Linked DNA regions of Homo sapiens. The protein of the gene in region 4 purifies or fractionates together with the protein of the main gene of each other region. This does not show direct contact. Each region holds a gene or a part of one and is shown on either strand. Other genes may lie near its edges.

Region 1 (3,500 bases), on a different chromosome or scaffold from region 4:
TTCTAAACCATCTCATTTTTTTTAAAGATGAAGAAGTTAGAGTCCAGAGAGGTAAAGTAACTTGACCAGGTTCACACAGATAATTAGCATAAAAGCCAGGACCAGAGCCAGAGAATGCCAAACAGAGCACATTTTGTTTCTCTGAAAGAAAGCACTGTGTACATTCAAAGACTTATTATTTCCACTGGGGGTAATTATACCCAAGAAATGTGACGGAGAGAGGGGAGACTCTCTTGCCCAAGAAGTGGTGACAAAACCAACAGTTGCATAATTGATAAGTAAATGACGGTACATCCATATGATGGACTTCCATGCAGCATTAAGACAACTTTTCAAACAAATTTTTTGGTAATCTGAAAAATGTTAACTATAAGGTTAAGTCATTTTATTTCTTGAAAAAGCAAGATATCAAATTATATGAACAGAATAATCTCAATTCTATTCAAAATATTTAATTATGCATATAAAAAGATTAGAAACATATAAAAATGTTAACAGGGATATTGTCTGACTGGTAGGATTATCAGTGATTTTTAAATATTATCCAAAGTTGCTATAGTGAACACACTTATAATCAGAGAAAATCTTATGGGGGAAGGATGAGATGAATAAAATATCCAAAGCGGTCAATAGTAGATGAATTTTTAAAATCTATCCTTTTGAGATAATATTTAAAAAGTTATGCTAAAATAAAAATACATAATTGATGTTGGAGCATGAGAATGCATTAAATATTTAAATTTCTTCTAATGTTGTTCAGGCCTTAAGATGTCTTCCAACTCTAGTGCCAAGCACTGTGCATACATGCTACGTACTCAATAAATTAGTTCATCCCTCATCCCTAGAGTTTCTTGGCTATATAATCTTCCGATCCCTCATATGCAAGCAAAACACCCATTAAAAATAGTTGGTAGTGTACTTAGGACTATTTAAAAATAGTTTCATTAAAAAACAAATGTGGCAGAGAATGGTGGCTCATGCCTGTAATCCCAGCACTTGGGGAGGCCAAGATGGGAGGATTGCTTGAAGCCAGGAGTTTGAGACCAGCCTGGGTGACATAGACCCCATTCTACAAAAAAATAAAAATAAAAAAATTAGTTGGGTGTGTGATATGTGCCTGTAGTCCCAGCTACCTGGGAGGCTGAAGCAGGAGGATTGCCTGAGCCCAGGAGTTCGAGGCTGCAGCAATCTATGATCACACTGCTGTACTCCAGTCTTGGCGACAGAGCAAGACCTTGTCTTAAAAACACATGTGTGCGCACACACACACACACATACACACACACACACACCACACTCCAAATGTTATATATCAGGGAGATGTTGGCTTTTCATAGTTTTATAATTAATTGGTTTGTGTGTTCACTTTTTAAAACTAGGTCAATAACTTTATCTTCCTGCTTTTTCCTCACAGCCCTGCCAAGCCCAAACATGTGGAACTAAATCTTAAAACCCCTAAGAATCTTGACAGTTTGGGAAATGAGCACAATCCATTTAGCCAGCCAGTTCACAAAGGCAACACTGCCACCAAAATCTCCTTATTTGAAAACAAACGGACAAACAGTAGCCCAAGACACACTGACATTCGAGGCCAAAGGAATACTCCTGCCTCTAGTAAAACGTTTGTTGGGAGGGCAAAGCTGAATTTAGCCAAAAAAGCCAAAGAAATGGAGCAACCTGAAAAGAAAGTAATGCCAAACAGTCCCCAGAATGGTGTGCTGGTTAAGGAAACTGCTATAGAAACCAAAGTTACCGTCTCGGAAGAAGAGATTCTGCCAGCAACCAGAGGAATGAATGGAGACTCTTCTGAGAATCAAGCTCTTGGTCCTCAGCCTAACCAAGATGATAAAGCAGATGTACAAACAGATGCTGGCTGCCTTTCAGAACCAGTGGCTTCTGCTCTGATTCCTGTCAAGGATCATAAGCTCTTAGAGAAGGAGGACTCAGAGGCTGCAGACAGCAAAAGCCTTGTACTTGAAAATGTAACCGATACAGCACAAGACATCCCCACCACTGTGGATACCAAAGATTTACCTCCAACGGCCATGCCAAAGCCACAGCATACATTTTCTGACTCACAGTCCCCTGCTGAGTCATCTCCTGGGCCTTCTCTTTCACTGTCTGCACCCGCTCCTGGGGATGTTCCCAAAGACACATGTGTTCAATCACCCATAAGCAGTTTCCCATGCACTGATCTAAAAGTGTCAGAAAACCATAAAGGATGTGTTTTGCCTGTGTCTCGTCAGAACAATGAGAAAATGCCACTTTTAGAACTTGGAGGAGAAACAACCCCTCCTTTGTCCACAGAGCGTAGTCCAGAAGCTGTGGGAAGTGAGTGTCCATCCAGAGTCCTCGTCCAGGTCAGGTCCTTCGTGCTCCCCGTGGAGAGCACCCAGGATGTGAGCTCCCAGGTCATCCCAGAGAGCTCTGAAGTTAGAGAAGTGCAGTTGCCAACTTGTCACAGTAATGAACCTGAAGTGGTTTCCGTTGCAAGTTGTGCTCCCCCACAAGAGGAAGTACTGGGCAATGAACACTCTCATTGCACAGCAGAGCTCGCGGCAAAATCTGGCCCACAAGTCATACCGCCAGCATCAGAGAAAACTCTGCCTATTCAGGCTCAAAGTCAGGGCAGCAGAACACCCCTGATGGCTGAATCCAGTCCCACCAACTCTCCCAGCAGCGGAAATCACTTAGCCACTCCTCAAAGGCCAGATCAGACTGTTACAAATGGCCAGGATAGCCCTGCCAGCCTTTTGAACATTTCTGCTGGTAGTGATGATAGTGTATTTGATTCTTCTTCTGATATGGAAAAATTCACTGAAATTATAAAACAGATGGATAGCGCAGTTTGTATGCCCATGAAAAGAAAGAAGGCCAGGATGCCAAACTCTCCTGCTCCTCACTTTGCCATGCCTCCTATTCACGAAGACCATTTAGAAAAGGTGTTTGATCCCAAAGTGTTTACCTTTGGTTTGGGGAAGAAGAAGGAAAGTCAGCCAGAAATGTCACCGGCTTTACATTTGATGCAGAACCTTGACACAAAATCCAAACTGAGACCCAAACGTGCATCTGCTGAACAGAGCGTCCTCTTCAAGTCCCTGCACACCAACACTAATGGGAACAGTGAGCCTCTGGTGATGCCGGAAATCAATGACAAAGAGAACAGGGACGTCACAAATGGTGGCATTAAGAGATCGAGACTAGAAAAAAGTGCACTTTTCTCAAGCTTGTTATCTTCTTTACCACAAGACAAAATCTTTTCTCCTTCTGTGACATCAGTCAACACTATGACCACGGCTTTCAGTACTTCTCAGAACGGTTCCCTATCTCAGTCTTCAGTGTCACAGCCCACGACTGAGGGTGCCCCGCCCTGTGGTTTGAACAAAGAACAGTCAAATCTTCTGCCCGACAACTCCTTAAAGGTCTTCAATTTCAACTCGTCAAGTACATCACACTCCAGTTTGAAAAGTCCAAGCCACATGGAAAAATACCCGCAAAAA
Region 2 (3,984 bases), on a different chromosome or scaffold from region 4:
AATATCAAGTCGGATTCTCCTGCTCTGTCCCCAGGAGAGGCAGGTAAGCTGCTTTCATTGCTGGTCAGCACTAGTAAGTCAGGAAGGAATCTCTTTGGGTGAAGGGGAATTTCAGAGACTTCCTTTAAATACTCTACTTAGAACCCTCAAGGTATTTGCCATTCTTGGGGAACCCTGAGCCAGGGCAAACTGAAACCAAAGCCCTTCTGATTCCTACCGCTCCTCCAGTTCCTGCCCTTCCCCATCACTAACTCCCAACAAATGTACACAGATTGTATTTGTGTAGATGTGGCCTCAGGAAATCAAAAGGTCCTAGAATGCAGGTAATTTAAAGTCTTACTAAATAATCTTCTGTCCAGTTTTTCCACATGGGTTCTATAATCTATTCAAGGAGATCGGGGGGAAAAGCATTCTTTTATTTATTTTTGTACCTCATTAGTAAGTCCTAACCATACTCTTCCTTAGGTCCCTTTTCCAACTCAGTCTCGTTCTCACATTTTTAGAAAGGACAACGGGATCTTTAAATTCTCTCGGTTTGTGTTGGGAAAGGACCCAAATTAGTGTGCTTCCTCATTGACAGTCAGAGTAGCCTTCAAGCAGTATATCCAGGGAAGGCATTTACACCTCCTCCCCGCCCTCTTTTTCAGTTTGGCCTACTCTAGCCTGCATTTCGCTCTCCCTGTAACTATGAGAGAAAATAACACACACTATTCACTCTCCTTTGTCTGCAAAGTCTGGCATTTCAGTGGTTTTCTTTAAGGGGGGTCCTCATTTGTGACCAGCTTTGTCATTAACGGAAATCAATCTGAATGCCCCATTGTGCATCTTTTTTCTTTCCTTGCAGTCTGAGATTGCCTTTGCCAAGTTTTTTCTCACCGAACCTGAAAGCCCTTCTCTCATTTTCCCGTTCCCTGCCTCCAGCCCCATTGAATCCCTGCCGAGCTTTCTCAGGCATAAGGGCTGTAGTGTGAGGATTGGGAGGAACTCGACCTACTCCGCTAACCCAGTGGCCTGAGCCAATCACAAAGAGGATTGGAGCCTCACTCGAGCGCTCCTTCCCTTCTCCTCTCTCTGTGACAGCCTCTTGGAAAGAGGGACACTGGAGGGGTGTGTTTGCAATTTAAATCACTGGATTTTTGCCCACCCTCTTTCCAAATAAGAAGGCAGGAGCTGCTTGCTGAGGTGTAAAGGGTCTTCTGAGCTGCAGTGGCAATTAGACCAGAAGATCCCCGCTCCTGTCTCTAAAGAGGGGAAAGGGCAAGGATGGTGGAGGCTTTCTGTGCTACCTGGAAGCTGACCAACAGTCAGAACTTTGATGAGTACATGAAGGCTCTAGGTAGGTAACAATAAGACCGGCTGTTCTCTTCTCAACGTGCAGCTTTAGATATTTGCAGATTCCATTTTTCACTCATCAGGTCAGCAAGAGGCAAAGACAGATCACATTGCCCTGATCAGATGCTAGGCTATGCATTTTCCACTGAATGGATTTTTAATGTGGCACTTGCTTGCCTTCTTACCCAGGGCCAATAAAAACAGAACATTTGCTATTCCGTGGAGAATATGAAGCTTCTCTGACTTTTTTGGTTTTCTTCTGCATCCACTTATTATCACAGTAGTGTTTTACATGATTAATGGGCTAATCATGTTCTAATGAAACTTACACTTTAGAACGTGGATTCCAGAATCAGAAAGCAGATTCTTGCTTTGTGAGTTATTTTGGAAGTCGCTGCAGACTGTACTGTTCCCTTTGCTATTTTAGGCGTGGGCTTTGCCACTAGGCAGGTGGGAAATGTGACCAAACCAACGGTAATTATCAGTCAAGAAGGAGACAAAGTGGTCATCAGGACTCTCAGCACATTCAAGAACACGGAGATTAGTTTCCAGCTGGGAGAAGAGTTTGATGAAACCACTGCAGATGATAGAAACTGTAAGGTGAGAAACTGCTTCTTCTTCAGAGTGGGGATGGGGAGAGGGGAATAAAGATAAAGATTTCCAATGCATGTTTTTTTTAAGATGTTGGAAAGTGTAGAATATTTTCAGTATTTCAATCCAAGGAGAAATACACCAAAGTTAGTTTAATGTGCATATGTTATATTTTGAACAATGGGTACTTGCTATAGCATAAATCTCAGTTGTATTTGTCTCTTACCATATACTGTTCACATTTTATATCAAACTTGTATTTCAGAAAATATTTAATAAGGTTTGTTTGAAAGAGAGATTGCATTTTGTTTAATTCCCCAGGTTGCCTCAGATTGACTAAATAGACAGTTTGCCTCATTCTAAGGCTTTCTTTAGAGGGACGACTAGCTGCAAAGCACTGGTTTAGGATTTTTGTTTTTAATATATTAAATTTTTGTATTTAGATGTATACTTTTTAATCAAATTATGAATTCAAATTTACATAATAGAAAATCTAGAAGTAATAGAAATAACAATAGGATAATTAACTGATCATGATTTATTCAATTATACAACTCTTTCAAAAATCACATCGTCTTCCGTATCAGAAATCTGAATTGTATTTATTGCTATGTTCTGCATTTTGTTGTTGGTCTCAGTCTGTTGTTAGCCTGGATGGAGACAAACTTGTTCACATACAGAAATGGGATGGCAAAGAAACAAATTTTGTAAGAGAAATTAAGGATGGCAAAATGGTTATGGTAAGTAATGACAATTCTCCATTCTTCCTTGTTTTTTTCTCCTCTCCGCACACCTCTCACCTCCTTCCTTCTTCTTCCCTCCTCCTTCCATTCTTCCTCCTTCCTTCCTTCTTTAATAATACATCACTGGCAAGGTTCTTTAACTATATGTAAAACAGGGGAAACAAAAAGATCCCAGTTAATTTTCTTCTTCAGCTCAACTTCTTTGATTGTAGAAAAAGAGAAAAATTCATGTGTAGTTAAAAAAATAAAAGTTGCCATTGATTTGCCTAAAACTGTGTCAAAAGATTTTTTGTAGGATAACTATGGATGTCTCTCAAATAAAATTTAATATAAAGCCCATAATCACTGAAATATATAAAGATAATTGCTATTATAAGAGAATCTCAGACAGATGACTTTATAGCTCCTGTAATAAGAGATCTTTAAACAGTTTATATTTTAATTTATAAAGTTACACAAGTTCTGGGCAGATAATTTAGAATATAACAGAAAAGTATAACAAAAAAATTAAAATCCCCTCTGATTTCTCATCAGTGATAACCCTTTTTTTTTTTTTTTTTTGAGATAAAGTCTTGCTGTGTCACCCAGACTGGAGTGCAGGGGGTGCATTCTTGGCTCACTGCAACCTCTGCTTCATGGGCTCAAGCGATTCTACAACCTCAGCCTCCTAAGTAGCTGGGACCACAGGTGCAAGCCACCAACGCCGGGCTAATTTTTTTGTATTTTTGTAGAGATGGGATTTCGCCATGTTGCCCAGGCTGGCCTACAGCTCTTGAGCTCAAAGTGATGCTCCCGCCTGCTGCCTCGGCCTCCCAGAGTGCTGGGATTACAGGCCTGAGCCAAGGCTCCCAGCCCCCAAAGAGAACCATTTTGATGTTACTTCTTTCCAGTTTTTTTCTCGAATGCATAATATGCCTTTTAAACATATATATTCAATACTAGGTAGACATGAAAAATATTTTTTTCAATCAGCCTCTTCTTACTTACTAGGAATTATCTGTAAAAGAGGATTTATTAGTGTCCTAAGGCTGCCACAACAAAGTACCACAAACTTGGTGGCTTAAAACAACAGAAATGAATTTTCTCAGTTCTGAAAGCTGGACGCCTGAGATCAAGGCGACCCTAGTGTTGCCATCCTTCTGCGGGCCCCCTCCCTTGCTTCTTCCTACTTCCCGGATGGCTCCTGGCAATCATTGAGGTTGTTGGGCTTACAGTTGTTATTACTCTGATCCATTTCTGACTCCATCTTTACAAGACTTTTTCCTCTGTTTTTGTCCTAAATTGATCAAATATAAAATAATTAACAAATAATTTATCT
Region 3 (2,824 bases), on a different chromosome or scaffold from region 4:
CCACCTAGCAACTGAAGGGGAAGATCCTGCTGAAGGGGAAGAAGCTCGGGGGGCTCCTGCCCCCTGGAGGGGAGGGTGGCCCTGAGGCCACTGTGGTGTCAGACGAAGACGAGGCTGCTGAGATGGAGGATGAGGCAGTGAGGAGCCGTGTGCAGCACAAGCCCAAGGTTTGAGGGGGAGCTGTGGGGTGGGGCAGCCCGGGCCTTCCCCATCCCCTCACCCGTGGGAGGTCTGCCTTGTCTCAGTTCTCTGTGGCTGCCACTCAGACCCTCTGCCCCGCTCTCTCTGTCTGTCTCCCTCTGTCTCTCTGCGCCTGGGTTTCTGGCTTTCTCAGTGCCTACCCTACCCCAACCACTGAATCTAACCCGGGCCTCCCCGTGTTCCCCAGGAGGACAAGCTCAGGCTAGCACAGGAGCTCTCTGACATGGTCATTTACTGCAAGAGTGTCCACTTTGGGGGCTTCTCCAGTCCTGGCACCCCTGGACAGGCCTTCTACGAGATGGCGTCCTTCTCTGAGAACCGTGCCCTTCGACTGCTCCAAGAATCAGGTGAGGCCTGGCTCCCCACCACTCCCCTGCTCTGTTACAGAGAGAATTGGCAGGGCAGGGCTTGGGCCTCACCAGGAGGCCTCCACTGCTGACCGAACCACACCTCCCCTCAGGAAACGGCTTTGTCCGCCACAACGTGGGGCACCTGAGCAGAATCTACCCGGCTGGATGGAGAACAGACTCCTCCAACTACAGCCCCGTGGAGATGTGGAATGGGGGCTGCCAGATCGGTATGGGCTGGCTGGGGCTGGAGGAGGCCTGGAGGAGGGTTTCAGTCCCAAGGCCGGGGGCCTGGAGCCTCGAAGGCCATGCAGTGGAGCTCTGAGGACCCAAGCAGGGTCAAATGCAGGGGCTTGTGGAGCTGGTAATATCAGTCTGGAAATATCTGCCCACCAGCATGTCACAGTGTCTGAAACCTCATTAGCACACTAGTCCTTTGAATTCTCACACCAGGAATGGAAGGTGTGGTTAGCATGGTGGGTCACTGAGGGTGGCAGGAGGGCAGCAGGCATTGGAGTGATGCTGGGCCCTGCTAACTCACCATGTGACCCTAGGCCTTAGTGTACCCTGAGCAGGCTGTGCTCTAGGGCCCCAGGGCCAGCCCACAGCCTGTGACTGCTCTGTCCTGCCTGTAGTGGCCCTGAATTTCCAGACACCTGGGCCAGAGATGGACGTGTACCAGGGCCGCTTCCAGGACAACGGGGCCTGTGGGTACGTGCTGAAGCCCGCCTTCCTGCGAGACCCCAACGGCACCTTTAACCCCCGCGCCCTGGCTCAGGGGCCCTGGTGGGCACGGAAGCGGCTCAACATCAGGGTACGCTGGACCTAGGAGGGACAGGTGCCCACGGACCTCCCTTCCCCGCTACCACTCCTGAACTGTCCATTGTCCTCTGCCTTTCCTCAGGTCATTTCGGGGCAGCAGCTGCCAAAAGTCAACAAGAATAAGAATTCAATTGTGGACCCCAAAGTGACAGTGGAGATCCATGGCGTGAGCCGGGACGTGGCCAGCCGCCAGACTGCTGTCATCACCAACAATGGTAGGTGCTGGGCCTGGGCTGGGCTACTAGGGCTGGTGTCCATGCTGCTGATATGGTGCCTGTCCCCCTAGGTTTCAACCCATGGTGGGACACGGAGTTTGCGTTTGAGGTAGTTGTGCCTGACCTTGCCCTCATCCGCTTCTTGGTGGAAGATTATGATGCCTCCTCCAAGAATGACTTCATTGGCCAGAGTACCATCCCCTTGAACAGCCTCAAGCAAGGTGAGTGTCAAGAGAAGGGGATGGCCAAGGTGGTGGGAAGCAGGGCCTGGCGTCTCTTGGGCTGGGGCTGGCTGTCCCTTGACGCATCCACCCCCCCTCCGCCGCCGAATGACCAGAACTCTCTCTGTGTTCCCTCCTGCCTGTCCACCCACCAGGATACCGCCATGTCCACCTCATGTCTAAGAACGGGGACCAGCATCCATCAGCCACCCTCTTTGTGAAGATCTCCCTCCAGGACTAGGCTGGAGGAAGCCAGTGGGGTCCCCCCTGAGTGGGCTGGGCCCTCTGTCCACATGTGGGGACAGGGCTGGTGTGGCTGCTCCCAGCCTCTTGCTCAGAGCTAGGCCCCCAAATTGCCTTCAGCCCTAACATAGTGTCTGCTGCTGCCTCCCTGGGGACCAGGAGCTAGCCCAGTCCCTGGAGCTGTCCTTCATTCCGTTAGGAATAACACTGCAGCCCTCTCCACCCTCCGGCCAGCGAGTGGTCAAGGATTTTTATAAAAATCACGATAAGATTAAGCCTTGTGGTCTCTTTACCTGGATGCCAGAAAAATCCCCTGTGAAGCGTGTGTGTGTGTGTGTGTGTGTGTGTGTGTGTGTGTGTGTGTGTGTGTCCCCATGTCCTAGAGTGCTGGAGCCCTAGCACCTCACTCTCCACCTTCCTTGCACATAGTTGAGTAGGGCAGGGGTATCTGGAGAGACCAACGAGAAATAAACCCCTCTGTGGGGTGGCACTGAGAGCTCACACCCGCCAGCCCTGGAGGCCCCTTCCCCTGAGAGGTGGACCTGCTGAGTGGCCCGGGCTTGAAAGCACGCATACCACAGCTCGTATGGGCTGCCTGCTTTTACTGACACGCAGAGGATGACCAAAAGCCTCTGAGGGGAGTGGAAGCAGGGCCTCCCCAGCATTGTAGGTATGTTGGGGTCCAGGGGATAGGGGCAGTCGAGAGGGCTTGGGTTCAGAAGAAGCCCAGCTGCTTTTTCTCCTGCCGCTGCCTCCACGTGGCCATGCTGTAGAA
Region 4 (3,323 bases):
TTGGTCCAGCTGGCCGCATTGCCCGCTCTCCGTCATGGGTGGGAAGGCCCACGTCTTCCTCCCCATCAGCCCTGGCCAGTGCAGGAGCTTGGAAGTCACTCGGCTTCAGTGGCCTCAGTAGCCTCCTGGGACCAACGGTGTCCTGAGGAGCTCCCGGGCCTGCCTGCCATCCCCATCCTCAGATGCCGGCTACAGCTCCTTGGGCCCAGCCCCCAGGGCACCGTGGGCTGTCACAGGGCACTCCAAGTTCTCAAGGAGCTTGTGCCTGCCAGTAGGGGTCCCCCCGAGGGAGGAAGTGGCATCTGTGGGTGCAGCATTCTGGATCGCCCATGGCCAGGCCTCTCTGGGACTGTGGGGGGCACCCACAGGCAGTTCAGTGCTTCCTGCTCAGGCAGACGCTGTAGGGAGTTTGGTCCAGGAAGGGGGACAGCAGCCAGGAGCGTCTGGATCTGCCAGGTGGGGGCAGGTGCGGGCAGGTAGGAAAGAGAAAAAAGCCTTGGTGCAAGGAGAGGGAGGTTGAGGGCAGAGTAGCTGGCAGCTGGAGGTGGGGGGCAGCTGGACTGGCCGCACAGGTGCTGTCGGTTGGGACAGGGCAGGAGGATGAGCCGAGGCCTTGAAGGCCATCCAAGGGGCTGAGGCTCCATCCCCAGAGAGGTGGGAGCCATAGGGGGGGTCCCAGCAAGGAAGAGGTTGGACCGATGGAGCCAGGATCAGAGGTGGGGCTCAGGAGGAGCTGTGGAGGGGCCCTTCCAGGATGTGAGGGCGGTGAGGGCCCCATGGGAAGGGGGACTCCGGGCTGTGCAATCAGGTCCTGTGGGAGACCAGCGGCGGGGGCCCTCCAGTGGCCAGTGCTCGGGTGGATCTGGACAGGGAGGGCTGCAGAGGCAGCGTAAGGAGAGCCAGGATGGTGGGTGGAGCCCCTCAGCAGTGGAAGAACAAGCTGGGGGTCCTGGACAGTCAGAGGGAGGGAAGGAGCCTGCAAACACCAGTGGCCACAGCCTCCTGGCGGCCCTGCCAGCAGACATGGCCTAGAAACACCGAGGACCAGCAGCGCGGTATGTAGGCAAAGGTGGTCACTTCCTGCTGTGACTCAGCTCGAATTGGGTTTCTGTGCCATCTACGCACACCCTGTGCCCCACTTCCTGCTTCCTGGGAAGAAAGAACTTTCCAGTGGTCCTGGGCCCTGCCCCGTGTCCCCAGATGGTGATGAAGCTCCTGGACCCCTCCTGCCCATGCTGCCCATTGTCGGGCAGCTGCCCTACTTTCCGCCTTGGATGAAGCTCCATTGTCCTCTGGGAGGAGAGACAAATGAGGGGTTTCTGGGGACAGAAGGCTGGGAGGAACGAAGCCACACCCTTTATGGAGCGGTTACTCTGTGTCCAGTGGGACTGTCCTCTGTGGGCCTGGGACAGACACTGTGACTGTGACCCCGGCCACTCCCTTATGGCTCAGAGCAGCTCTGCCGGGGGACGCCTTGTGGCTGTGCGGCTGACGGGTGCATGGCTGGCCTGTCTGGAACAGGCTGTTCAATAGTCACCCTCTCTCCACTGGGTCTAGCTCCTCTGGGCAGCTGAGTGAGAAAACAATACCAGAGCTGACCTCCCAGAGCAACGGGAGGCGTGCTGTGGCCAGGCCCTGGTGCCAGAGCCACACAGCCTGGGGTGTGGAGCAGAGCAGCCCTTAGCAACCAGCTGAGGCCCCTAGAGGGAGAGGAACTCACCAGAGCGAGGAAGAGTGGGAGGTAGGACAGGAAGAGGAAGGGTCTGCATAAAGAGGCGCCATGAGCAGAGGGCGAAGGGCCTGAGGAGGAAAGGCGCTCTCTGTACAGAGAGCAGGGAAAGGCATCGCAGGGGAGGGAACAGCGTGTGCAGAGCCAGGAAGAAGAGGAAGGCCAGCATGGCTGGGTCAGAGTGCTCGAGAAGAGGAGCAGTGGGGCAGGGGCGGTGCTCAGCACCTTAGTCCTTAGGCCCCACGCCCTCTGCTGTCTGCGTGCCTGTTGGGTCCCTCTGACTCTGCCCATTGTTGAACTCTCTGAAGTCTCCTGGAGGGCAGGGCCCTGTCTCACCTGCAGGTCTCGCCACAGCCCGCTCTGGGGCCTCCCTCAGTGATGGTGTGGCCAGGGCTGATGAATAGCCGAGGGACCCTGCCTTGCCTCATCCACAGGTGATTACTTCGGGATCCTCAAGGAGGCGAGAGTGACCGTGTTCCCCTTCAACATCCTGGACAACCCCATGTACTGGGGAAGCACAGCCAACTACCTGGGCTGGGCCATCATGTGAGTACCAGGCTTGCCACCCCTCTGCCCTGCTGGCCACCTCCCGGAGAGGAGCTGGTGCAGCTCAGGACGCGGGGGCCAGGGCCCCTGGAGAGAGAGAAAGGAAGAACGTGTCATTTGTGGGGGCCTAGGCGCCCTGGTTCTCCCTTTCTCAGAAGCGTCTTATCTATGGTAACAGAAACAACATCCCAGAACAGGGTGGTCAGCTTCTCCAAAGAGGGCTGGAGTGTGGAGGCTCAAAGGCTGCAGGCAGGTCACAGCTGCTCAGCCCTGGTCCTGCCACACAAAACAGCTGCAGACGCAGGAAAATGGATGCGCGTCTTTGGCGCCAGCACAGCTCCACTTACAGACACTGAAGCCTAAATTTCAGATTCTTTTCACGTGTCATGAAACATTCTTTTTGATCCTTTTGCTTTTAACCGTTTAAAAATGTAACAGGCGTTCTTGGCCCCTAGGCCGTAGTTTGCGGACCCTTGTGCGGGGACATCAGGGCTGGGACCACCCGACCCATCTTCCCCGCAGGAGGGGTTGGCCAGAGCCGCCAGGGCCCAGCTCACCCGCAGCTGACAGAACTCCCTGTGCCCCAATAGCCTCTGCCCATGTGGCAGATACCCCTTCCCACAGAGGGGGCCCCGTGCCATGAGGGAAGCCTAGAACTGCTGTCGGCCTCAGCCAGGTACGGGTACTGACAAGGTATGGAGATGTGCTCCCCCGGCGGGTCAGAGGACCTGCGGTCAAGGATGGCACAGCGGGCGCTGCCCTCGGCTTCATACCCAGCCCCCACCCCAGCAGTTCTAGTTTAGCCATTTTCTTCCATAGAAGGTTTTTTGGCAGACAGTGTTCCACTGCTTTTGTTTAACACTTGAAAACCACTGGCCTAGAATTTACAGGTTCTCCACAAGACCTGAGGATCCCAAAGGAGTGAATCGTAAACAGTGAATGTCAAGCGCAAGATGTTGCCTCCTGGCTCCCACCTTCAGCAGTTGGGACCGTAGCAGCGGGGGTTGGAGACAGCAGAAGCTAGAAGGGGGGCTGTGGGTCTGGCTGG

Evidence for each region. The genes of interacting proteins can lie anywhere in the genome.
Region 1: the proteins of PEMT (region 4) and CRYBG1 purify together in Homo sapiens (affinity purification with mass spectrometry; one large-scale study listed by BioGRID and IntAct). This does not show direct contact.
Region 2: the proteins of PEMT (region 4) and FABP7 purify together in Homo sapiens (affinity purification with mass spectrometry; one large-scale study listed by BioGRID and IntAct). This does not show direct contact.
Region 3: the proteins of PEMT (region 4) and PLCD1 purify together in Homo sapiens (affinity purification with mass spectrometry; one large-scale study listed by BioGRID and IntAct). This does not show direct contact.

What each region holds. Positions count from the first base shown.
Region 1 is NC_000006.12:106,517,717-106,521,216, forward strand, and holds part of CRYBG1 (beta/gamma crystallin domain-containing protein 1), read left to right. Parts: intron 1-1,414; coding exon 1,415-3,500. UniProt on the Homo sapiens protein: May function as suppressor of malignant melanoma. It may exert its effects through interactions with the cytoskeleton.
Region 2 is NC_000006.12:122,778,532-122,782,515, forward strand, and holds the start of FABP7 (fatty acid-binding protein, brain), read left to right. Parts: upstream 1-1,184; 5' UTR 1,185-1,263; coding exon 1,264-1,336; intron 1,337-1,759; coding exon 1,760-1,932; coding exon of another isoform or gene 1,933-1,980; exon of another isoform or gene 1,981-2,561; coding exon 2,562-2,663; coding exon of another isoform or gene 2,664-2,816; exon of another isoform or gene 2,817-3,984. UniProt on the Homo sapiens protein: B-FABP could be involved in the transport of a so far unknown hydrophobic ligand with potential morphogenic activity during CNS development.
Region 3 is NC_000003.12:38,006,996-38,009,819, reverse strand, and holds the end of PLCD1 (1-phosphatidylinositol 4,5-bisphosphate phosphodiesterase delta-1), read left to right. Parts: intron 1-8; coding exon 9-167; intron 168-388; coding exon 389-548; intron 549-661; coding exon 662-778; intron 779-1,183; coding exon 1,184-1,362; intron 1,363-1,452; coding exon 1,453-1,585; intron 1,586-1,656; coding exon 1,657-1,806; intron 1,807-1,961; coding exon 1,962-2,047; 3' UTR 2,048-2,324; downstream 2,325-2,824. Other genes in the region: VILL (villin-like protein), read right to left, coding at 2,765-2,824. UniProt on the Homo sapiens protein: The production of the second messenger molecules diacylglycerol (DAG) and inositol 1,4,5-trisphosphate (IP3) is mediated by activated phosphatidylinositol-specific phospholipase C enzymes. Essential for trophoblast and placental development.
Region 4 is NC_000017.11:17,508,386-17,511,708, reverse strand, and holds part of PEMT (phosphatidylethanolamine N-methyltransferase), read left to right. Parts: intron 1-2,163; coding exon 2,164-2,275; intron 2,276-3,323. UniProt on the Homo sapiens protein: Catalyzes the three sequential steps of the methylation pathway for the biosynthesis of phosphatidylcholine, a critical and essential component for membrane structure.